Homo sapiens: one gene and its partners. The protein of the gene in region 3 interacts with the protein of the main gene of each other region in a biochemical or structural test. Each region holds a gene or a part of one and is shown on either strand. Other genes may lie near its edges. The genes, in order: EPS15, GID4, UBE2H, UBA1, MARCHF1, UBR2 and TRIM21.

Evidence for each region.
Region 1: of the proteins of UBE2H (region 3) and EPS15, one has a biochemical effect on the other in vitro, tested with the Homo sapiens proteins (one study listed by BioGRID).
Region 2: the proteins of UBE2H (region 3) and GID4 form a complex in vitro, tested with the Homo sapiens proteins (one study listed by BioGRID).
Region 4: of the proteins of UBE2H (region 3) and UBA1, one has a biochemical effect on the other in vitro, tested with the Homo sapiens proteins (3 studies listed by BioGRID, with this or other methods).
Region 5: the proteins of UBE2H (region 3) and MARCHF1 form a complex in vitro, tested with the Homo sapiens proteins (one study listed by BioGRID).
Region 6: the proteins of UBE2H (region 3) and UBR2 form a complex in vitro, tested with the Homo sapiens proteins (one study listed by BioGRID).
Region 7: the proteins of UBE2H (region 3) and TRIM21 form a complex in vitro, tested with the Homo sapiens proteins (one study listed by BioGRID).

The regions. Positions count from the first base shown.
Region 1 is NC_000001.11:51,397,267-51,400,766, reverse strand, and holds part of EPS15 (epidermal growth factor receptor substrate 15), read left to right. Parts: intron 1-1,601; coding exon 1,602-1,735; intron 1,736-3,500. UniProt on the Homo sapiens protein: Involved in cell growth regulation. May be involved in the regulation of mitogenic signals and control of cell proliferation. Involved in the internalization of ligand-inducible receptors of the receptor tyrosine kinase (RTK) type, in particular EGFR.
Region 2 is NC_000017.11:18,052,908-18,056,407, reverse strand, and holds part of GID4 (glucose-induced degradation protein 4 homolog), read right to left. Parts: intron 2,282-3,500; coding exon 2,174-2,281; intron 1-2,173.
Region 3 is NC_000007.14:129,851,961-129,855,460, forward strand, and holds part of UBE2H (ubiquitin-conjugating enzyme E2 H), read right to left. Parts: intron 1-3,500. UniProt on the Homo sapiens protein: Accepts ubiquitin from the E1 complex and catalyzes its covalent attachment to other proteins. E2 ubiquitin conjugating enzyme that transfers ubiquitin to MAEA, a core component of the CTLH E3 ubiquitin-protein ligase complex.
Region 4 is NC_000023.11:47,203,829-47,207,328, reverse strand, and holds part of UBA1 (ubiquitin-like modifier-activating enzyme 1), read right to left. Parts: intron 3,062-3,500; exon of another isoform or gene 1,468-3,061; intron 1,382-1,467; coding exon 1,216-1,381; intron 1,082-1,215; coding exon 885-1,081; intron 1-884. UniProt on the Homo sapiens protein: Catalyzes the first step in ubiquitin conjugation to mark cellular proteins for degradation through the ubiquitin-proteasome system.
Region 5 is NC_000004.12:163,530,520-163,534,019, reverse strand, and holds part of MARCHF1 (E3 ubiquitin-protein ligase MARCHF1), read left to right. Parts: intron 1-3,500. UniProt on the Homo sapiens protein: E3 ubiquitin-protein ligase that mediates ubiquitination of TFRC, CD86, FAS and MHC class II proteins, such as HLA-DR alpha and beta, and promotes their subsequent endocytosis and sorting to lysosomes via multivesicular bodies.
Region 6 is NC_000006.12:42,672,029-42,675,528, reverse strand, and holds part of UBR2 (E3 ubiquitin-protein ligase UBR2), read right to left. Parts: intron 1,739-3,500; coding exon 1,642-1,738; intron 1,404-1,641; coding exon 1,336-1,403; intron 1-1,335. UniProt on the Homo sapiens protein: E3 ubiquitin-protein ligase which is a component of the N-end rule pathway.
Region 7 is NC_000011.10:4,387,550-4,390,702, reverse strand, and holds part of TRIM21 (E3 ubiquitin-protein ligase TRIM21), read left to right. Parts: intron 1-244; 5' UTR 245-293; coding exon 294-701; intron 702-953; coding exon 954-1,049; intron 1,050-2,172; coding exon 2,173-2,403; intron 2,404-3,153. UniProt on the Homo sapiens protein: E3 ubiquitin-protein ligase whose activity is dependent on E2 enzymes, UBE2D1, UBE2D2, UBE2E1 and UBE2E2.

The DNA of each region.
Region 1 (3,500 bases), on a different chromosome or scaffold from region 3:
TAATGAATTGTTGCTTTACTTTTACTTCTTCTTTTTTTTTTTTTTTTTTTTTTTGGTGTTTTTTGTTTTTGAGACAGGGTCTTATTCTGTCACCCAGGCTGGAATGCAGTGGTGTGATCATGGCTCACTGCAGCCTTGACTTCCTGGGCTCAAGCAATCCTCCTGCCTCAGCCTCCTGAGTACCTAGGTCTACAGGCTCATGCCAGCATACTTGACTGATTTTTTTTTATTTTTTGTAGAGACAGGGTCTCACTGTGTTGCCGAGGTTGGTCTCGAACTCCTGGGCTCAAGCAGTCCTCCTGCCTCAGCCTCCCAAAGTGCTGCGATTACAGACAGGTGTGAGCGACTGTGCCCGATAGCTTTACTTTTTTAAAAATGACATTAGTGTTTAGACTTTGGTGCTTTAAATATTTATTCTGATTCCTCCTTACTAACTAAAGGTTTGGTGAGCATAATGATCTATACTGCTTCAGGGTTTAGAATGTAATTTTGTTTTCCTAAGATTATAGCCCACACGTGTGATTAGAGGCAGAGAATCTTGAAGAATTACTAAAACATCAGGCTTTTTGAGATATTCTTTTTCTGGGAATTTTCATTAGAATAATGCAAATCTTGTTTACCATTTAGTTTTGCATCCCAAACCTGTTCTAAACTATTGGCTGTTAGCTTTGAGCTCAGAGAGAAAAATACATTTAGAAGTTTTTATTGTGTTTTCTTTAGTTACGGTAGCGTAGAATAAGGGGACTTAAAATTGGATCCCTTGAAATTATATGTTAATTTTAAAAATAAGTTTATTAGGTGGAAGGTTCTGTATCTTTTATCAAAATTGCAAAGGAGTCTGTGAAATAAAAAGTACTCAGCTTAGATTCTACAGTATTTCAAACTGTCTTTTTGGATTTTTTTTTTGAGACAGTCTTGCTCTGTTGCCCAGGCTAGAGTACAAGTAGTGCGGTCTTGACTCACTGCAACCTCCGCCTCCCATGCTCAAGCTATTATTCTCATGCCTCAGCCTCCCGAATAGCCAGGATTACGGGCGCGCACCACCACGCCTGGCTAATTTTTGTATTTTTAGTAGAGACAGGGTTTCACTGTGTTAGCCAGGCCGGTCTTAAACTCCTGAGCTCAAGTCATCCGTCTACCTCAACCTCCCAAAGTGCTGGAATTACAGGTGTGAGCCACTGCACCTGGCCCAAACTGTCTTTTTGTTTGTTTGTTTTTGAGACAGGGTCTCACTGTCACCCAGGCTGGAGTGCAGTGGCAGATCTTTGCTCACTGCAGCCTCTGCCTCACAGGTTCAAGTGAGTCTCCCACCTCAGCCTCCCGAGTAGCTGGGACTATAGGTGCGCACCACCATGCCTGGCTAATTTTTGTGTTTTTTAGTAGAGAGGAGGTTTTGACATGTTGGGCAGGCTGGTCTTGAACTCCTGACCTCAAGTGATCTGCCTGTCTCAGCCTCCCAAAGTGGTGGGAATGCAGACGTGAGCCACTGCACCTGGCCCCAGACTGTCTTTTAATTAAGGCACTGATCATACCTTCAAGTGATGGGAAATTTAGTGCAATAATTTTTTTTTGTCTCTTATATTCGTGCCTTATTTTTTTAGATCCATTTGGTGGTGATCCTTTCAAAGGTTCAGATCCATTTGCATCAGACTGTTTCTTCAGGCAATCTACTGATCCTTTTGCCACTTCAAGCACTGACCCTTTCAGTGCAGCCAACAATAGCAGTATTACATCGGTAAGTGGGAGAATTAAAAACTGTTAAGTTAAATGGATAATAAGTGTCCTAAGCAAGTTTCTTGAAATACATAGTGATGAAAGAACCCTCATTTAGATTACTTCTAATGGACCATATAAGAATTTCAGTCTCATCCCAATTCATTTAGTTTTTGGTTCAGACTGGTATTTCATAGTTTGATTACCCACTGGAATTAACTGGAATGACTGAACGGAGTCCAAAAGTGATGTTCATCTTTCAAGAGACTAAATCTTATCCTATTGAGGATACTAAAAATGATTGGAAATTTATAAGCCAATCTTACATAAAACTTTTCTGAAATGTTTGGTATATTATTGAAATAATGAAAATTAAAAGAATTTTAGAAAAATAAAATCGTTTATGTTATTTCATAGACACATCTGGAATGTTAATTCTGCAAAGTACAAATTCTCACTAAATGTCAAGCTCTCTTGAGAATGTACATACCTACAGCAATCACTGTTTAATAACCACATGCCTGATCCAGGTACTGGTGTGTGCTTTACATTCATTGTTTCTAATCTTCACATCAATTTTGCAAAGTAGGTGTTGATATCCCTATTTTAAAAATGAGGACACTGGGACTTAGAAAAATTAACATGTTTAAGGTCCTATAGCTAGTTGCTGTTTTATCTGGAGGCTTTAAAAAAATCTTCATGGCTGGGCGCGGTGGCTCACGCCTGTAATCCCAGCACTTTGGGAGGCTGAGGTGGGCGGATCACGAGGTCAGGAGATCGAGACCATCCTGGCTAACACGGTGAAAACTCGTCTCTACTAAAAATACAAAAAATTAGCCAGGCGCGGTGGTGGGTGCCTATAGTCCCAGCTACTCAGGAGGCTGAGGCAGGAGAATGGCGTGAACCCGGGAGGCGGAGCTTGCAGTGAGCCGAGATCGCGCCACTGCACTCCAGCCTGGGTGACAGAGCGAGACTCCGTCTCAAAAAAAAAAAAAAAAATCTTCATCTTGTGGATATTTAGAAATACTCAAAGGAGAATAATGTAATGAAATATTTTAACAAGCTTCCATGCATCCATTACCCAATTTCAATAGTTAGGAATGGTTTTGCAGGTTTTTGGTTTTGCTTTTTAATTTGTATTTTGAGACTTCGTTTTTGAGACCACAGTTTCATGTCTGTAGGTAAACTGAACCTATAAAGGACCAGTTAACTGAGAAGCATTTGAAGCAAAAAATTTGTCTTCTAGTACTATTAGATTAAGAATATTTCCTTTAAAATGTAATTGATTATTTTAAAGATAATAGGTTTTGTATTATTGAAAGTTGCTTCTTTTTTGTATTCAGTAAAGAGCTGCTTGGCTAAGAACTGGTGTTTTCCATTGAATAAAAACTGGACAGATACCTTCGTGACTGAATATTTTTCGTTTCCCTGGGCTGCTGGATACTCTGTTTTCCTATAGCACTTAGTTTGCAATGTGGACCCATTTGCCAAATTCTTCTAAAATTGCTGCTACTGGAATTCTTCTCCTCTCACCTTCTTATTCTAGCCTCTCATTCTCCTATCATCTAAAGAGCAAGAAAGCTAAATTAGCTCTTCTAATTTAAAAATGAATACATTCCTCTTGTCCTGTCCCCCATGAGATTTTTCTACCATTTGTTTTACTGACTTTTATTCCCAGTTTTCTAAAGGAATATTGTCCTTGCTTTACAGCTTGTAATTTCACCATTCAAAACAAAAAACCAGATTGGCAATATAATAATAGCTGCAGTTTATCTAATTTCCTCTGT
Region 2 (3,500 bases), on a different chromosome or scaffold from region 3:
CCACCTGCTGGTGGCCAGCACCTTCATACACCACTTGGGCTCCCCCAACCTTCTGGATACTCAGGTCTTGTGCATTCTCTTGTATCACAGAGAGACACAAATGACTGTCTAGTTTTTAGTGTCCATTTGCTACAACAATCAAAATGTATAGAATTCAAAAAACGCTTTAAAAAGCTCAAGTTTAAATTTAAATTTAACTGAACCTCAGTATTTGATAGATCTCCTTTTTTTACTCAAGTAAAAAACAGCTTGGGGCTGGGCATGGTGGCTCACGCCTGTAATCCCAGCACTTTGGGAGGCCAAGGCAGGAGGATTACTTGAGGCCTGGAGTTCAAGACCAGCCTGGCCAACATGGCGAAACCTTGTCTCTACTAAAAATACAAAAATTAGCCAGGCACGGTGGTGCACGTCTGTAATCCCAGCTACTTGAGAGGCTGAGAGATGAGAATCACTTGAATCTGGGAGGCGGAGGTTGCAGTGAGCAGAGGTTGCAGTGAGCCGAGATTACGCCACTGCACTCCAGCCTGGGTGACAGACTGAGACTCTGTCTCAAAACCAAACCAAACAAAACAGAACAAAACAAAACAAAAACCCCCATAAAAGAAAAACCAAAAAAACAGGTTGGGTCAGTGGCTCACACCTATAATCCCAGCACTTTGGGAGGACAAGGCAAGAGGATCACTTAAGATCATGAGTTCAAGACCAGCCTGGGTAACATAGGGAGACTCTGTCTCTACAAAAATAAAAGAAAATGAGCTCAGTGTGGTGGCACGTGCCTGTAGTTCTAGCTACTTGGGGCGCGGAGGTGGGAGGATTACTTGAGCCCAGGAGGTTGAGGCTATAGTGAGCTATAATCATGCCACTGCACTCCAGCATAGACGACAGAGCAAGACCCCAACTCTAAAAAAAATTTTTTTTAAATAAAATAAACAAATAAAAAACATTAGTAAGCAAAGCAACTGATCTCTAGTGAGGTGAACTCAAGACAAGGGTCTGCGGGAGTTCTCTCCACAGACTGCTGTGCCAGAACCAGGGGAGAGTTTAGATAGCCAGGTGTGAGAGGCAATGGGAAGAACGAGTTCTAGAATCTTTGCTACTGACACAGCCATTTCTGGTTGGTTTATGGAGGGTAAACCCATTGAACTTCTTCAATGTTAAACAAAAATTCACCATCACCATGGTCAACTAAAGCAAAAGGCTATTAGGTTGAGAAAATGATTTTTTTTTTTTTTTTTTTGAGACGGAGTCTCACTCTGTTGCTCAGGCTGGAGCGCAGTGGCACAATCTCGGCTCACTGCAAGCTCCGCCTCCTGGGTTCACGCCATTCTCCTGCCTCAGCCTCCAGAGTAGCTGGGACTACGGGTGCCCACCACCACGCCCAGCTAATTTTTTGTATTTTTGGTAGAGACGAGGTTTCACCGTGTTAGCCAGGATGGTCTCAATCTCCTGACCTGGTGATCCGCCCGCCTCGGCCTCCCAAAGTGCTGGGATTACAGGCGCAAGCCAACGCGCCCAGCCGAGACACTGATTTTTGAAGACATGGTACTTATATGACAACAAATGAAAAGATCCCAGGACACTAACTGTCTTGAAGCATTCACTACTGCTGAGTGAGAATGCTCTACACTTGACAGTTAAAAAGGGGGGCAGCAGGATTTATAGTGGTGTACTTAAGACAAGACTATACTTGTCTGTCAGCAGCCAGGATAAAAAGAAATGATGTGGCTCTGCCCTGATAAGCCAGTGGGCAGGCAGATTCCCACAACATCATCTCCATCTCATGCCAGCCCCGAAGCCGGAGGTCATCATTGCATGTTTCACAGGGTTTTCCCCAAGCAGAGGTGATTTGAAAGGAACAGTGGACAGAAGATGGACAAACAGGTGGGAAGGATGGGGGGACACTGTTAAGATTCTGATAGCTGAGCAGAGTTCTGGCTGGAACTCTGGGGTTGCTATCATCAGACAACCATTTGCTATTTAAGCAGCAGGTCAGATCGTATTTAAACTGTCCTCATAAGGAAGATGGAACAACTGAGGTCTGTGTGCAGTGCAACCTTTTACTTGGTTGCAAAGCCCCAGTAATCCTCAATAAGGGACAAGGTCTCTGGCTCCCAGCATTTCTTCAATTCTCTAGCAGCCCCTAGATGACCCAGCACAGATCAGATTTACTCACCCAGTGTTTCCGATCAACATCTTCATCTGCATCCCACTTGCGAGTTAAGAAAGGGTGTTTTTTGCTGATTATTTCTCCTTCGAAGAAGGTTGTAAGGGTTGGATACTCCTATGGTAAAAACCCAAATATCAAAATAAGATGTTGAGTGAGAGTTTTTAACCTTTGTACAAAGGAAAAATAAACTTTGCTTTAACTTCTTTCCAGTACCTAGACACTGCTACCTGACAATCCAAACCAGAGTTAGATCGCAGCCAGTTTGCCAACAGGCTGTGGCAATGGACCTGAATCTAAATCACCCAGAGAATGAAGGGTTTCCTGGATTTTGCCAGCAGCAGACAGCCCTTCTTTGACTTCAATTGTTACATGCTAGTCTCTTAGAAAATAATTTGGATGTTTCCACAAATAAATTTTTAATATTCTAGCATACAAAGCAGATCATAACTTGGTAGATTTTACTTTCCAAGGTTAGACCCAAAGAGGCTCCAAAATCACTGTGTCTACCACTAAGGCTCCCTCAAGCCACTGGTTCTCCAACTGGCTCAGTCATTTGTCCCTTTTACACCAATTCTCCAAGGTTCCAGGGTGGATTCTGGGGTAGAATACTTTTTTATTTTTCCTGAGACAGAGTCTTGCTCTGTCGCCCAGGCTGGAGTGCAATGGCACAATTTCGGTTCACTGCAACCTCCTCCCACACCCTGGGTTTATGTGATTCTCCTACCTCAGCCTCCCGAGTAGTTGGGATTACAGTTGGCTGCCACCACGCCCACCTAATGTTTGTATTTTTAGTAGAGACGGGGTTTCGCCATGTTGGCCAGGCTGGTCTCGAACTCCTGACCTCAGGTGATCCACCCGCCTTGGCCTCCCAAAGTGCGAGGATTACAGGTGTGAGCCACCGCACCCAGCCTAAAATACCTTTTATTTTGGCCAGGCATGGTGGCTCACGCCTGTAATCCCAGCACTTTGGGAGGCCGAGGTGGGAGGATCACCTGAGGTCAGGAGTTCAAGACCAACCTGACCAACATGGAGAAACCTCATCTCTACTAAAAATACAAAATTAGCCGGGCGTGGTGGCGCATGCCTGTAATCCCACCTACTCGGGAGGCTGAGGCAGGAGATTGCTTGAACCTGGAGGCGGAGTTTGCAGTAAGCCGAGATCACGCCATTGCACTCCAGCCTGGGCAATAAGAGTGAAACTCTGTCTCAAAAAAAAAAAAAAAAAAAAAAAGTAAATACTTTTTTCAGTGTTCTACATGTTCAGAGAAACTTCTAGTAATGAACTATACAAATGGTCCCTGAAGGTAGTCTTAGAATACCTTGATACATAGGG
Region 3 (3,500 bases):
ATCCCAATAGTACTGGACAGAATTGCTCTACTTGGCCTCTATCTACAAATAATGACATCCAGCTGTTCCAAAGGCAGGATGACGTTTGTGATTCAACATGGACAGATCAATACTGAAGTTCTCAAGCTGTTCAAATAGTAGTTGGCCAATTAATCATCCATGAAGACACATACATGTATTTCTTATCTGTGTAGTTACACTAAAATGTTTAGGAAACAGCATGCACTAATCCAGCATAAAGCATTATTTTAAGATATACCTTCTGCCAAAATCTGAATTATTTGGGAAGATTCACAGACTATCTAACTGAAAAGGGGATGGGATAAGTGTTAAATTTGTATTTTAAATTTCTAAATGCCTGGTAAAATAAATTTTAGGTGCCTGTAGTCCCAGCTACTCGGGAGGCTGAGGCAGGAGAATGGCGTGAACCCGGGAGGCGGAGCTCGCAGTGAACTGAGATCGTGCCACTGCACTCCAGCCTGGGCGACAGAGCGAGACTCCGTCTCAAAAAAAAAAAAAAATTTGTATCTCTTGCCTAATCTCAAAGTCCTTGAAGTATTCCTTCTGTTGTAGTCAATTTTATTTGCCTGTTACTAACTCCCCAGATAACTCTAGGGGAAGACTTTTCCCAAATGTTGATTTTTCTCTCCAGCAAAATAAGAGTAGAAGTATCTAGTCCACTGGCTAGCAACCCTAAGAGTGAAAATGTAAACTGCCCAATTTCATAAGAAAATTGTCTTCCACCTCACTTCTCCACAACTTTTTTTTTTGTTTGTTTTTTTGAGATGGAGTTTTGCTCTTATTGCCCAGGCTGGAGTGCAATGGTGCAATCTGGGCTCACTGCAACCTCCGCCTCCCGGGTTCAAGCAATTCTCCTGCCTCAGCTGTCCGAGTAGCTGGAATTACAGGTATGCGCCACCACGCCTGGCTAATTTTGTATTTTTAATAAAGATGGGGTTTCTCCATGTTGGTTATGGCTGGTCTCGAACTCCCGACCTAAGGTGATCCGCCTGCCTTGTCCTCCCAAAGTGCTGGGATTACAGGCATGAGCCACCGTGCCCAGCCTACAACTTAATCCATCATATAAATAATTTACGAAGGCAGTCAAAGAATGAGTAAAATGAAAGCTGGAGAGAGAAACACATTTGCAGGGATCAAGCATGCCTGGTCCAGAAGGGTGGGATGAGAGAGAGATTAAAGCTGTATCGCAGTGAAGGCACCTGGGCCCCCAGGAGTGCAGGGTGATAAGCCAACTACAGATAAAATATATTTTGGAGAAAAAAAGGAAAACTGGAAAATAGAAGAGTGCTTAAAAAGCTACCTGTGGCTTAATGAACTCTCCTATCAGTCCTTAAAATTAATTTGTTTTGAAATGGAAATCCAGATCCCCTTGGCTACATTTTATGTTTCTCAGAGCTTCTGTCACTGCTGTCTGGAAGAGCAGGAAGGGATGCAAAAAAAAAGATGCTATCATGCAGGAAGCCAAAATCACTTTGGTCATCTGCTACTTTCTGTTTAATGTCATAACAATAACAATAGATAACTTCATACTTGATAACTTCATACTGATGGCAAGCATCTTACAAAATTAATCCGATTCCTCACTATAATTAGCTCTCTTGTAAGGTTAAATAATACAAAATTAAAAATTACTGGGTGAGTAAACCACAATTATACCAATTTTGAACTCTGAATAAACAAATTGCACATACACTTGGCAAAGAGAAAACAGGATAAGAACAGAAGCAATGAGTCAACTGGCTTACCAGAAATCAATGGCGGGGAAGGGTGTGAGGGGACAGAGGACTAAATTTACTGCTAACATGAATGTTGTTTAATATCAGGCTATGATTAACATACATCTGAAATTTCAACTGTGAATTGTTGTTACGCTACAAATATGTATACCCACAGAACAGTACATGTCCTGGGGCAAGGTAAATGGCAGGAAATTTCACAATCCACTCCCTGCTCCCTCATCGAATCTACAGCAGAGGAAAGTGTTGAAACAAGTTTTAGGTGCCAGGCTTAGCCTTTTGCTTTTCAGTTGAATATTTATGTTGACACGCCAACTTTCTCCTATTAGTTATTTAGTGTTAGTTTTTTTTTTTTTTTTTTTTTTGGCGGGGCAGGGGTTGGCGGGGGCAGTCCTTTGAACTAAGATTCTCTCAGGAACCACTGCAGGAAATGAAGTGATTCAGAACTCACCAATTATGAACTAACCTTCAATGCCAGAGGCTTTAACAGTTTCTAATAAAAATTCAGTTCAGATCTCAAGTTCAGATAAGTCTGAAAAAACACTTCAAGGTCATCTGAACGAACATATTCTACCAGTACTTTATATAATTGTATTTACCTGTTCCTAAAACTTTCCGTGAAAGAAATGTTGAATTTTCTTCAGAAATAGTTTTGAGCAAAATGTCAAAACAATTCTCCCATGCTCAGTGTACTTTTGACTATACTCTGAAAATATTTCTTCTTGTTTTCCTGCACTTACCTGTTAGTGTGCTCACACTCCTGTATTATGGAACATGTTCAGTAACTCATACACATGTAACACAGAAGTCTGCTTTCAGTTCACTTGGACCAACGTGGTTTAACTCTTGCTGCTTATTAAATGCTTTGCAAGCTAATGTAAGTACACTAACATTTTATAAATGTGATGAAAACTTACTCATGTTGGCCACTTTACAAAGTAGTCTATCAGTCCTCAAATAGTTAAACATATTATCCAGCAATTTCACTCCTAGGTATATACCCAAGAGAAATGCAAACATGTCTACACAAATACTTGTGCACAAATATTTATAACACTCATAATAGCCAAAAGACAGCAATAACCCAAATGTCTATTATCTGACAAATAATGTGGTTTATCTACACAATGAAATATTATTCAGCCATAAGAACTTCCGATACATGCAACACGGATCAACCTTGAAAACATTATGCAAAGTGAAAAAAAAAACAGTCACAAAAGACCACATATTATATAATTACGTTTCTAAGAAGTGTCCAGAAAAGACAAATCCACAGAAACAAAAAGCAGATTCGTGGTTGCCTAGGGCGAATAGTTAAAGGGTACACATTTATTTTTGAGGTGATGAAAATGTTCTAAAATTGACTGTGGTGATGGCTGCATATAACTGAATGTATTAAAAACTACTGAATTACACACTTTAAATGGGTGATTTGCATGTCTGTGAATTATAATTCAGTGAAACTGTTATTTTTTTAAAAAACCTGTTCTGAGACATGAAGTACTTGACAGTCAGCAAACATCTTTCACAAAGCTTTTCTGGTCAATGGTAAAAGCTTTAGCAAAACTAAACATCAATTTACTTCATTGTAATTGGAACCAGATTGCAGTATTTTGATATGTACATTTTTAAGATGTGAATGTAGTTTAAGAAAACACATCATTACATCAGATATTCCAGGCAGCCTGCCATGAGACATTTTTACCAAAAAAACCATCTTAAAAGGAATCCATTTAATCA
Region 4 (3,500 bases), on a different chromosome or scaffold from region 3:
TTCTTCCAATGTGGCCCAGGGAAGCCAAATGATTGGACACCCCGAGCTAGATAATATATGCACTGTTCTGTAGATAAATGCACCATACACACAGAATCATCCTGACAAACCAGCTGTTAAACTCATTTTGAGTAACAGCTGGGGAAAACCTGAATATGGACCATTAGAGACAAATAAATAACTAGAAGAGATGGTAAGAATGATTGTTAATTTTGCTGAGCATGAAAATGATGTTTCTGTTAGACAGAAGTAGTTCTCAACTGGGAGTGATGTGGCACCCCTGGGGACATCTGGCAATGTCTGGAGACATTTTGAGATGTCATGATGGAGGGAGAGTGCTATTGGCATCTAGTGGGCAGAAGTCAGGAATGCTGAGAAACATCCTACAGTGCACAGGGCATCCCCTCTCCCATGACAAATAAATAACCAGCCCCAAATGTCAGTAGTGCTGAAGCTAAGAAACCCTGTTCTACAGCAACATATCCTCACTTGGCAGAGGCACTGAAATAGTAGGGAGTAAAGGGCTGTGATGTCTGTGACACATTTAAGCACAAAGAAGAAAAATCTACATAAATCTAAGAAGAAAATGTGGCAAAACATTAAGAATTGTTAAATTTAGGTGAGGAATGGTATTTGAGTATTCATCATAATATTCTTAATATTTGTCTATGTGTTGAAAAAAAAATCAAAATAAAAGTGAAAAAAGAATGAGTCATTCTAGAAACCTAGGCTGCCTGGTGGGAAGTGAGGGAGGGAGGTTTGGAGAAAAGGCACATCTTACACTTAGGCATGCAACATCTGAAGGCAAGGCAAGGGCCTGGGGGCGGAGAGGCAGCAGCCTGGCCAGATGCCTGGCCTCTTTCCCTTCTCCCACAGCTTATCACCTGCAGGGTGTGCTCGATGGCATTAGGGAAGTTCTTCAGGGTACAGATGGGGATGGACTTCTCAGGTGGGTCCTGGCTGGAACTGTACGACTCTGTCAGGAAGGGGATCACCACCTGCACATTGCCTTTGGTGCCCAGTGTGCCTGACTCCAGCAGTGGCTTCCGGTAGTAGACACAGCGGCGGTCCATGTACATGCCTGTGGGGAGCACAAAGCGAGAGCTAGGAAAGAAACATCAGGAGAGGACAGAAAGACGGACACCCCTCTTGGTATATACACACCGAAACACACACAACTTTGCCCGTGACCACCTCACCCGCCTCCAAACTCACGGGCATCCACGTTGTCCAGGGCATTGGCCACGCCATCTAGGTTTTGGAAAAAATCGTCATCATAGATGCGCTCCGTGTCAGGACCCACACGGTTCTGGTGGCTTGTCACCCGGATATGTGGATTCATTTGGCGCACAGCTGCAGCAGCCGTGTCAGACTTTAACTTCTAAAGGGTTAAGAAAGTGCAGTTCCAGGGTGGGGATGGGGGAACAAAGCTCACTTATTTGTGCATTCACCCAACAAACATCTTTATTTTTTTTGAGACAGGGTCTCTCTCCATCACACAGGCTGGAATGCAGTGGCATGATCACGGCTCACTGCAGCCTCAACTTCCCAGGCTCCAGCGATCCTCCCACCTCAGCCTCCCGAGTAGCTGGGACCACAGGTGTGTGCCACCATGCGTGGCTAATTTTTGTATTTTTGGTAGAGACAGGGTTTTGTCATGCTGCCCAGGCTGGTCTTGAACTCCTGAGCTCAAAGACCTCGGCCCCACAAAGAGCTGGGATTACAGGCGTGAGCCACCGCACCTGGCCCAAACACCTATAAAGGGCTGTCTGCCTGAGACTGATTTACTTAATGCTGGGGAAGACCCAGGCCCTGAGTTAGGAGGCTAGCAGGAGAGACGGTCTGTGACAATGCCACATGGCCAGGATGATGATGCATGTGGCAGGGGCTCAGCATAAAGGGAAGCTGTGGACAGGAACAGACTGGAGACAATGGGCCAGACATCTGTTCTTTCGTCTAACACCTGCTATTTTTTCAGGTAACAGCACCCAGGATTGATGCAGACTCCCCCAACCACCACCAGGATGCTGGCACACAGACAAGCAGGATCCTTTCAAAGCCCAAATTGGGCCACGTCCCTCCTCTGCTCAGAATCCTCCCCTGGATCCCACCTCCACTTACCGTAAAATGAGTTGGCTCCCTGACCCCTCCCACCTCAGGATCTTTGCGCAGGCTCTTCCACAGCAGAGGGCACTCTAGTCCCTCATATCCTTGAGGTCTTTGCAGAACTCAGGCCTTCCTTAACCATTGTCATCAATACTACAAACCATTCTCCCTGACACCCCGACTTCCCTTGTCTGGTTTTAGTTGTTTCCTTTGAGGAGCACTCATCACCAACATTAACTATATACCTCACGATCGTATTGTGTCTATTGTTTGCTGTCCGTTCCCCTCTCCCTCCAGGAATCTTGTTTTATTCCTTGGTATATCCCCAATACCTAAAACAGTACTAAAACTATCTGGTGAATAAATGAAATAAATGAAAGGGGGAATAAATCCTGGGTAAGCAAAAACGACACTGCTCCTTACAGAAAGCTTCTCAGAGAACCCTGCATAACCAACCCAGTTTCCATATGTGCAGAGAAGTGTAAGCCTAGGAGACTGAAACTACAACCCTTGGAAAGGCCTGCTTCCAAGGTCGGCTCCTTGGCTGGTGTCTGGGAACTTGGAATTCAGGAAGGTTCCCACCGCTCCCTACCTGGTATCAGTGGTTCACTGTGCCTAAACCGTTCATGCAAACAATACAGTTTACGCTGAACACCTTTCCTTCTGGGAGTCTGGAAATTTTGTTATGTGCCAGGAAGGGGGCGCCTACATGACCAGCCCCAAGTAAAAGAGGTGGTGCTGAGTCTAACAAGCTTCCCTGGTTGGCAACATTTCATGTCTTGTTACACCTTGTTGCTGTTATTTCTGTAGTTACTGTTGCTACTGGGGAAATAAAGGCCGCCTTGTTTAACTCCCGCTGGGAGAAGACTCCTAGAAACTTGCACCAGCCTTTTCCCTTTGCTGATTTTGGTCTGTATCCTTTTGCTGTAATAAATTGTAGCCACAAGCACGACTATATGCTGAGTCCTGTAAGTACTCTAGGTGAATTGAGCTTGAGAGTAGTTTTGAGGACCCCAGACACACTGTCCCAACCAGCACTAAAAAGAGGTTAAGGCAAAAAAAAAAAAAAAAAAAAAAAAAAAACAGAAGCTGAGGGAAAGAAAGGCCAAAAAGAAGGGCTTCTGGCAGAGGCAGAAAGATCTCTGACAGAAAGAATGGGAACAAGAAAAAGGAGGGGTGAGGTGTGGTGGCTCACGCCTGTAATACCAACACTTTGGGAGGCTGAAGCAGGCAGATCACCTGAGGTCGGGAATTCGAGACCAGCCTGACCAACATGGAGAAACCCTGTCTCTACTTAAAATGCAAAATCAGCCGGGCGTGGTGGCGCATGCCTGTAGTCCCAGCTACTCAGGAGGCTGAGGCAGGAGAATCGCTTGAACCCAGGAGGCAGAGGT
Region 5 (3,500 bases), on a different chromosome or scaffold from region 3:
AAGTTTACTAAGAAAGGCACTGGATGAGAGAAATCAGGCAGCTGAGGATGACGATAAAATAAATAGAGGTATAGATCATGAGCATTTATTGTGCAAGACTGCAGCAAATTTTAGGCACAATAAACTCCATTGGGCATGGCTAAAAAGAAATGGAGTGTTTTTGTGCAATAGTTTCCATAAATATATCATGCATACATTACCAATTTCCAAATACCTAAATGCTCACAAACCCATCTCTTACTCGAAGAAATTCTATAAACTGACCTAGACACAGTGATGAATTCATGGAACTAATCTCTCAAGTAAGGAGCTAATATATATAAATATATATATATATATTATATATAAAAGACTATTTTTGGAGCAGATTTAGGTTAACAGAAAAATTACAAAGAAGGTAAAGAGAGAGTTCCCACATACCACCCTGCACATACACAAGGTTTCTCCTGTTATTAACATCTTGCCTCAACGTGGTACATTTGTTACCACTGAGGAGCCAATATTCTTACATTATTAAAGTTCATAGTTACATTGGGGCTCACTCTTTGTGTTGTACAGTTCTATGAGTTTTGACAAACGTGTAACGTCCTGTGTCCACCGTTACAGAATCATACAGAATGGTGTTGCCGCCTTAAAAAGTCCCTGTGTTCCACCTATTCATCCCTTCCTTTCTCCTCCTAAACTGTTGGCAAACACTGATCCTACTATCTCCAGTTTTGCCTTTTCTAGAATGTCACATAGTTGGAATCACGCAGTATGTAGCTTTTTCAGACTGACCTCTTTTATTTAGCAATATACATTTAAGGTTTCTTCGTGTCCTTTTGTAGCTTGATAGCTCATTTCTTTTTAATCACTAAATAATACTCCATTACATGGATGTATCACAGTTTATTCATTCACAGATTGAAAAACCACTTGGTATTTCCAGCTTTGAACAAATATATGAATAAAGCTGCTACAAACATTTGTGTGCAGGTTTTTGTGTGGACGTAAGTTTTTGTTCATTTGAATAAGTATAATGTTGTATCATTTGAAAAGCTGTGGTTACCATTGTAAAAAACTGCCAGACTGTCTTCCAAAGTGACTGTACCATTTTGCATACCTATCAGCAATGAATGAGAATTCCTGCTTGTCGTTCCACATCCTTTCCAACGTTCAGTGTTTTCAGTGTTCTTTTTTAAAACTTTAGCCATTCTAATAGGTATATAATGATATCTTGTTTTAATGTGCAATTCTCTAATCACATATATTAATAATCTTACCATCTGTTTATCTTCATTGATGACATATCTGTTCAAATCTTTTGCTCATTTTGTAATTAGGTTATTTTCTTATCATTGAATGTTAACAGATCTTTGTATATTTTGGATACAAATCCCTTTTTCAGAATATGTTTTGCAAATATTTTTTCCTGTGGCTTTTCATTCTCTTAACAGTGACTTCCTCAGAGCAAAAGGTTTTAGTTTTAATAAAGTCCAATTGATCCATTTTTCTTTTCATAGATCATACTTTGGTCACCTGAATTTTCTTATCTTTTAGAAGCTGTATAGTTTCACAGTTTACATTTAGTTCTATAATCCATTTTGAGTTAATTTTTGTGAAAAATTTAAGGTCTGTTTACAGACTCATTTATTCGCATGCAGATATTGTTATACCAGCACCCATTTGTTAAAAAGACTATCCCTTCTCCATTGAATTGCCTTTGCTCCTTTGTTAAAGATCAGTTTCCTATATTTGTATCAGTCTATTTCTGGGCTATTCTGTTTCAATGATTTATTTCTTTATTCTTTCATTGATACCACACTGTCTTGATCACCGTAGTGGTAGTAATCAAGGATAGTGTCAGTTTTCAAAAACTTTATTCTTCCACTTCAATATTGTGTTGGCTATTCTGGTCTTTTGCTCTCCATATACACTTTAGAATCAGTTTGTCAATATCCATAAAATAACTTGCTGGAATTCTGAATGGGATAGTATTGAATCTGTAGATCAAACTGGGAAGAATAGATATCTTAATAATATAATATTAAGTCTCCCTATCCATAAATGTGGAACATCTTATTTCATTCAGATATTCTTTTATTTCCTTCATCATAGCTTCATAGTTTTTCTCACATAAATCTTGTACATATTTTGTTAGGTTTACACCTAAGGTTTTTGTTGTTGTCATTGTTTTTGTTTTGTTGGCACAAATGTAAATGGGCTTATGTTTTTAATTTCAAATTCTGGTTGTTCACTGCTATATATAGGAAAGCAATTGACTTTTTGTAAAACTTTGTATCCTGCAACATTGTCATAATCACCTATTTAAAAAAAAAACTTAATCAGTTCTTTGAGATTTTATACATAATCATATCATTTGTGAACAAAGATAGTTTTATTTATTCTTTCTCAATCATCTTTTATTATTCTTGTTTTATTGCATTAGCTAAGACTTCCAGTGTGATGCGGAATAGGCATGGTAAGAAGGAACATCCTTGTCTTGTTCCTGATCTTAGGGGGAAAGCATCTAGTTTCTTACCATTATGTCAGCTATAGGTTTTCTATGTTCTTTATCGCATTAAGGAAATTCCCTTCCGTTCCTAGTTTTTATCATGATTGAGCGTCGTATTTTGTCAAATGTGTTTTCTGCACTTATTGATATATTCACATTTTTCTTTAGCTAATTGATGTGATTACATTGATTTCTGAAACTTGAACCAACTTTGCATACCTAGAATAAATCTCTATTGGCTGTAGTGTGTAACTGTTTTTATACATTGTTGAATTCAATTTGCTAATATTTTGTTGAGAATTTTTGTATCTGCTCATGAGAGATACTGGCCTATAACTTTTCTTCATAGTAATTGTCTTTGCCGAATTTAGTATTGGGTAATGCTAGTCTCACCCGATTAGTTAGGAAGTATTATCTCTTCTATTTTCTGGAAAAGACTGTAGAACATTGATGTCATTTCTTCTTTAAATGTTTGGTAGAATCCACTAGTAAAACTATTTGAGCTTGGTGCTTTCTGCTCTGAAAGGTTATGGTTGATTTAATTTCTTTAATAGATCTAGGGATATTTAATTATCTGCCTATTAATTACACCTGCCACTGTAATGATCTCTTATTTCTCCTGTGTGAGCTTTGGCCAATGATATTTTGAAGTATTATTTCCATTAGGATTAAGTAAATATTCAAGATGATGACTACTATGAATTATTCAAGTCATAAAGAAGTCCTTGCGTATTAGGAGTTAGTTAGAAAAAATTTACCTTTGCTACCGGTAAAGGTTCTAATAAATTTGATTGCATATATTTAATCTACTCAAAAACTAAGTTCAGATTTGATTGCTGAAAGAGGCATAGAAATTTATTTTAAATTGACAGTGCCAAACAGAGCAACAAATTAATGAAACATCAACAACAGTGAGAGGCTTTTCATGTTTTCTTACAATCCCTTTTAAGATCAGAGAACATTTTTTCCCCAAAAATTTCAAAGGAAGAGTCAGAGCCAAAGCATT
Region 6 (3,500 bases), on a different chromosome or scaffold from region 3:
ATGATTTCATTAATCCAGTGGGTCCTCTATACATAGCTTATTGTTAACAAAAACAGTATCTGAACTCTCTCCAGGACTGTAGGCAGTTGAAAAAACATGGGTTTTGGACCCATAAATATCTAGATATGAATCCTACCTCCTCCTCTTATGAGCTGTTTTACACAAATTAATATCTCTGATCAGGCCTCAGTTTCCCTATTGGTAAACTAAAGACAATATGTTACATGTAAATTGTAGAGATGTAAGTGTGAACGTATGTAAAAGCTGGCAGGTACACAAATGCTAGCTCTGTTGGCCTCCTGCTGTCTGCATGGCAGTATAAGTGGTGGTGGTTTTAGTTGCAGCAATGAGAACAGTAATAGCCGCATTTATTAGGAATATATTGCTCTAAGTGTGTTACATGGATTAACTCACTGAGTTCTGACATAGTCATATAAAGTAGGTACTAACCAACTTAAAGGGGCAGAATCTGAGGTCCAGAGAATAAAGGCACAGCACTCGGGGCTGCTGGGTGTGGCAGTACACTCTGTACCCTGTGCAAGGGAACCCAGTTGAGGTAGGGCTGAAATTTGGCTACCCACTATTTGGACAGCTGTGTGTCTTAGCACTAGGATGTCCTGGCTCAGAGGACATACCTTTCCCTGAATTATAAGGGGCTCTCTGCTGCTAAGTAGTGTGACCACAGGGCTGTATCTGCCAGATTTTCGAAAATGTACAAAAGCACTGTATGGGCCAGCAGCAGTGCTTCTGTTGCTGTTTTTTTTTTTTTGGATGGGGTCTTGCTCTGTCATCCAGGCTGGAGTGCAGTCATGCAATCTTGGTCACTGCAACCTCCGCCTCCTGGGTTCAAGTGATTCTCCTGTCTCACTTTCCTGAGTAGCTGAGATTACAGGCATGTGCCACCACGCCCAGCTAATTTTTTGTATTTTTAGTAGAGATAGGGTTTCACCATGTTGGCAAGGCTGCTCTCAAACTCCTGACCTCAAGTGATCTGGGGTGAGCCTCGCAAAGTGCTGGGATTACAGGCATGAGTCACCACACCTGACCCGTTGCTGGTGTTTTTATCTCTTTACAGGTTAAAAGCACAGAGAGGTTAAAATACTAACCTCAGCCATAAAGCAAAATAAGAGTCAGAGGACGTCTCGATAACCAGGTCAAGTCTCTCAACTAGGTTCCTAAATATTTTCTTTTTGAGGTTTCTCATAAAAGAATTATACTCAGAAGGGGTAAGGAAATCACATAACTCCTTCCTGTCTGCCACTACACTGCTCACCAAACCTAAGGTAAAGTTACATAGTATGACGTAGAAGTCCAAACAAACTGCACAATACCCACCAATAAATGAAACATGTCAATATCTAATATGCATGGAAGTTCCTCATGGCTGTCATTAGGCACCAGTGCTACAGATTTAAAGAGAAATACATTAGCATATTTCATATGCCAACATGTTAAAATGCATATAATCTGCTTTAAATTTATCTTCTTGCAAGACACATGAGAATTTATAAGCTAGAGCTTATATATAAGAAAACCAGTACTACTAAATATTTAATTCATTACTGAGAGAAGCTGTACCATTAAAAACAAAATTTCAGAGGATGAAAAATTACAACATGTTATAAATGTATTAATACTCACATGCAAAAAGTTTACAAAAATGTCCTTGCACCACTGAAACTGATGCCACTGTCCAGTGTGCTGCGGCAAATCTCGTCAATGACCTAAGACAGTCATCCTAAAATAAACCAACGCAATTAACAAAAAACAAAAATGCAAAGCAGTTCTCTTTCAGGAATGCTAGTTCAGAGCACAGCTGGATGCACAATGAAACTGCTCTAGATGGTATGGAACTAGATCTATGACATCTCAATGACATGCCTCTAACACAGGATAAATGGAATGGGAAATGTCTAAGTGTGTGCTGAATAAATGAAATCTATCTCTTTGCCACCATGTTGCTGGTTTTCTCTGGAAAAGAAAAGAATATAGAATATACGCATCTGACAGAAAGCAAGGGACACTCCCAAGATGCCAGTGCAGGCCGGGTGTGGTGGCTCACACCTGTAATCCCAGCTACTCGAGAGGCTGAGGAAGGAGAATCACTTGAACCCTGGAGGCAGAGGTTGCAGTGAGCTGAGATCACACCACTGCACTCCAGCCTGGAAAACAGAGCGAGACTCTATCTCAAAAAACAAATAAACAAGCCAAGATGCGGATGCAGTATTTCTCTATGTTTATCCTAAACAGATACCCTAAAACACATATCTCTTATGTTTATCCTAAAGAGATCCTCTAAAATGTGGATACTCTTCCGTAAAATGTAGAGTATCCTAAAGAGATACTCCAAATATTGGGGAAACTGTCTAAGAAGATGGTGGTACAAATGAGGGTGCCTGCAGCTATTAAAAATTGTTATGAGGACTAAGTAGCAGTAATAAGAAAACTCTTGATTTAAAGAATACAGCAGAAACAAAGCTACATGTGAGTACCAATTGTAATCAAGCATAAATATGCTAATGGAAAAAGATGGGTATGTGATAAGTTGATGACTTTTTTCTTCCTGCTTGTTTTTTCATTTTCCAAATTTTCTGTAATGTTTGGTTCAATAAATATTGAGGTCCTACTATATACACTAGGTCTTGGTTCTGAAGATCTTCAAATAAAACCCATTCTCCCCCTCCTGCTCTCAAAGAGCTTAAAGTCCTGGGGTGGGAAAGGAAGAAAGTGGGGAAGGAGGCAGGCATCACAGATGAGAGGTCTCTAACTCACAGTACATGGTTCAGAGGGCTTTCTAAGGGAAGGGAAAGCTTGAACAGCATCTGAAAGAGTAGCAGTCTGCTTAGGGTACTCTAGGCAGAGGAAATGGAATGTGCAAAGGCATGGGAACTAGCATTGAGGAACTGGCAGTGATTCTACAAGTCTGGACCACAGGGGTGGGAACTGGCAGGAGGTGATAATGGAGAAATAGGTTAAGAAGTTTGTAAAAGTATGAAGAATATGAACAGGATTGCTTTTGAGGAGCCCCTCTAATAACGTATTAGAGAAGAGTGAGATTCTGGGTAAAAACTGCTATGATAATCTAGGCAAGAAATAATATGGGGCTGAACCAAACAAGTAGAAGAAGGAATGGTGAGAATTTGTCAGACTCTGCTGACCAACTGAATGTGAATGCCCAGGCTAAAAAATGTATCTAGGCCGGGAATGGTGGCTCATGCCTGCAATCTCAGCATTTTGGGAGGCCGAGATGGGCAGATCACCTGAGGTCAGGAGTTTGAGACCAGCCTGGCCAACATGGTGAAACCCCATCTCTACTAAAAACGCAAAAATTAGCTGGGCACGGTGGCATGCACCTGTAATCCCAGCTACTCGGGAGGCTGAGACAGGAGAGTCGCTTGAACCCAGGATGCAGAGGCTGCAGTGGGCCGAGATTGTGCCATTGCACTCCAGTCTGAGCAACAGAGTGAGACTCCATCTCAAAAAAAAAAGACTTCAATTTT
Region 7 (3,153 bases), on a different chromosome or scaffold from region 3:
TGGGTTACTTTAGCTCTACAGTATAATTTGACGTCAGATGATGTGATTCCTCCAGTTTTGTTCTTTTTGCTCAGGATAGCTTTGGCTATTCTGAGTCTTTTGTGATTCCATATAAATTTTAGGATTGTTTTTTCCTATTTTTGTGAAGAATGTCATTGGTATTTTGATAGGGATTATGTTGACTTTTTGTTTTTCTTACACAGACTTTCTCATATTCTCTTTTCCCTTTCTTCTTCTCTCCCAGCCAAACCCCCTAAAGGTCTCCACACTGCTGTTTAACGGCACACTTGACAATGGCTTCAGCAGCACGCTTGACAATGATGTGGGAGGAGGTCACATGCCCTATCTGCCTGGACCCCTTCGTGGAGCCTGTGAGCATCGAGTGTGGCCACAGCTTCTGCCAGGAATGCATCTCTCAGGTTGGGAAAGGTGGGGGCAGCGTCTGTCCTGTGTGCCGGCAGCGCTTTCTGCTCAAGAATCTCCGGCCCAATCGACAGCTAGCCAACATGGTGAACAACCTTAAAGAAATCAGCCAGGAGGCCAGAGAGGGCACACAGGGGGAACGGTGTGCAGTGCATGGAGAGAGACTTCACCTGTTCTGTGAGAAAGATGGGAAGGCCCTTTGCTGGGTATGTGCCCAGTCTCGGAAACACCGTGACCACGCCATGGTCCCTCTTGAGGAGGCTGCACAGGAGTACCAGGTGAGGCCTAAGAGACACCTGGTGAGTGCTTCGTTTTCAGAGCAGGGAATGGGAGAGGACCACCTCTGGATTGGAGGGGTTAGAGAAAGGAGGGGTTTACCTCTCTCCATGTCTAATGTAGGAGGAGAATTATAAGTTAAACCCAACCTCATTCCCCAGGCGTAGGAGATATGCATGAGAAAATGCTGCAAGGATTACCCCACCCTATTACTTGGTTTGCATGGGGGACGAATAAGCTGTCTTTCTCTGCAGGAGAAGCTCCAGGTGGCATTAGGGGAACTGAGAAGAAAGCAGGAGTTGGCTGAGAAGTTGGAAGTGGAAATTGCAATAAAGAGAGCAGACTGGAAGGTAAGAATGACATCCTGAAGGAGATCTTAGGCTGGAAGGCTGGGCAGGGTCCAGAGTCCTCAACTCACAGCCTTAACCGTAGCTGTGCCTCTCTGAGCAGTGATAGAGTTGGTCCGTCTCACTCTCCAGAAGCCAGCTGCTCTCTAGGTTTACAAATAGAGGGGAATAAAAATGATGCAGGTTCAAAGGGGAGCTCCCCATCAGGCCTGAAGATCAAGAATCCTGGAAGAAGGTGCTGAGAGGATCTAGCTATACCCTAAAGTTTCGAGCTCCTCTGAGTCTAGTCTCAGAGGTGTGATGGCGTCAGCACCTGGATGTGTGAGACAAATATCCTAGTAGAAACCCAACTGCTAGCTAAGCCTTTCAGGAAATGACAAGGGCTGTGAGGAATAAACTTAAGGAAACCATCTGACCAGGTGGTTACTTGACCATGACCAGATCTCTGGTCCAAAATATAATGAAGAATCAATGTTTGTTCTGCACTGATGATTTCCTAGGAGAGGTGGGGCATGTCAGGGATGAGAGGGGAGAAGAAGGAGCCCATCCCCAGTAGATCACAGAAGAGGAAGATTTGGGATTGAGGTAGGGTGTGAGTTGGGTTGTGGTGACAAAACAGACCCTCATGTGTCATCGAGTGACCTTCCAGTTACTAACAGGAGAGGAAAAGCAAAGAATGTCCCCAAGCCCCCTTTCCCAGGACTTAGAGGTGGTGGCGTGAGCCTGGCTTTGTGAGGTTGTTGGAGGTGGGAACAGGTGATTTTTTTCTCAGTAACTCACTGAGACAGGAAGACACAGGGGCACATTTGAGTGGTGACTGGGCTTGGAAGAGAGGTTGGAAAAAGTCCCCAATGCCATATATTCGTGTAGCTGTCGTTGTAGGCCAGCTACAGTGTGCCCTCACCAAGTCCATTCCCCTCACTGTCCCAGAAACCTCAACCACCTACCTCCCAAGCAAAATTGTGTGTGTGTGTGTGTGCGCGCGTGTGCGTGTGCATGTGTGTGTGTTTTCCCAGACAGCACAGAGTGGAGTCTCTTGGGGATAGGAATAGGTACCAATACCTCCATTCCCAAAGCTTGGGAGATTTTCATAAAAACCACCTCTCCCTTTCCCTTGACACTAAAGAAAACAGTGGAAACACAGAAATCTAGGATTCACGCAGAGTTTGTGCAGCAAAAAAACTTCCTGGTTGAAGAAGAACAGAGGCAGCTGCAGGAGCTGGAGAAGGATGAGAGGGAGCAGCTGAGAATCCTGGGGGAGAAAGAGGCCAAGCTGGCCCAGCAGAGCCAGGCCCTACAGGAGCTCATCTCAGAGCTAGATCGAAGGTGCCACAGCTCAGCACTGGAACTGCTGCAGGTGAGACAGGGAGGGGTTTCCTTCTACAATTCAGGGAATAACTGAAAAAGACCAGAGCTATCTGGAACTGCCATTTGAATAAATGGACACCTGGTCCCTGGAATGTTCTTAAATGAAGTAGAATTCAAACCCATGAAAGGTTCGCGTTCAAGACGCAAAGTAAAGATGAAAATAAGTACAGGACCTTTTTAAAAATCAATTTATGTTGCACTTAGAATCATCTTGCATCCACCAATGATATGTTTGCCTCACTGTAGGAAACTATGGACTAGATGGTCTCACAAGTCCCTTCTGTTCTAACATTCTACAGCTCTTTTCCCACACCTGTTCAGTGTCACTCAGAGTGGTCATGAGCCATTGCTTTCAGGTTTGTGCAGAAAACCTAATTGTATTGGGTTGACTTGACAGGCTCTCTTCTGCCCAACATTGAACCAGGCTTTCTATTTATTTATTTATTTATTTATTTATGAGACAGAGTTTCACTCTTGTTGCCCAGGCTGGAGTGCAATGGTGTGATCTTGGCTCACTGCAACCTCCGCCTCCCGGGTTCAAGCGATTCTCCTGCCTCAGCCTCACATCACCACACCTGGCTAATTTTGCATCCCTAGTAGAGATGGGATTTCTCCATGTTGGTCAGGCTGGTCTCAAACTCCCAACCGTAGGTGATCTGCCCCCCTCAGCCTCCCAAAGTGCTGGGATTACAAGAGTGAGCCACTACACCTGTCTGTAAACCAGGCTTTCCAACACACT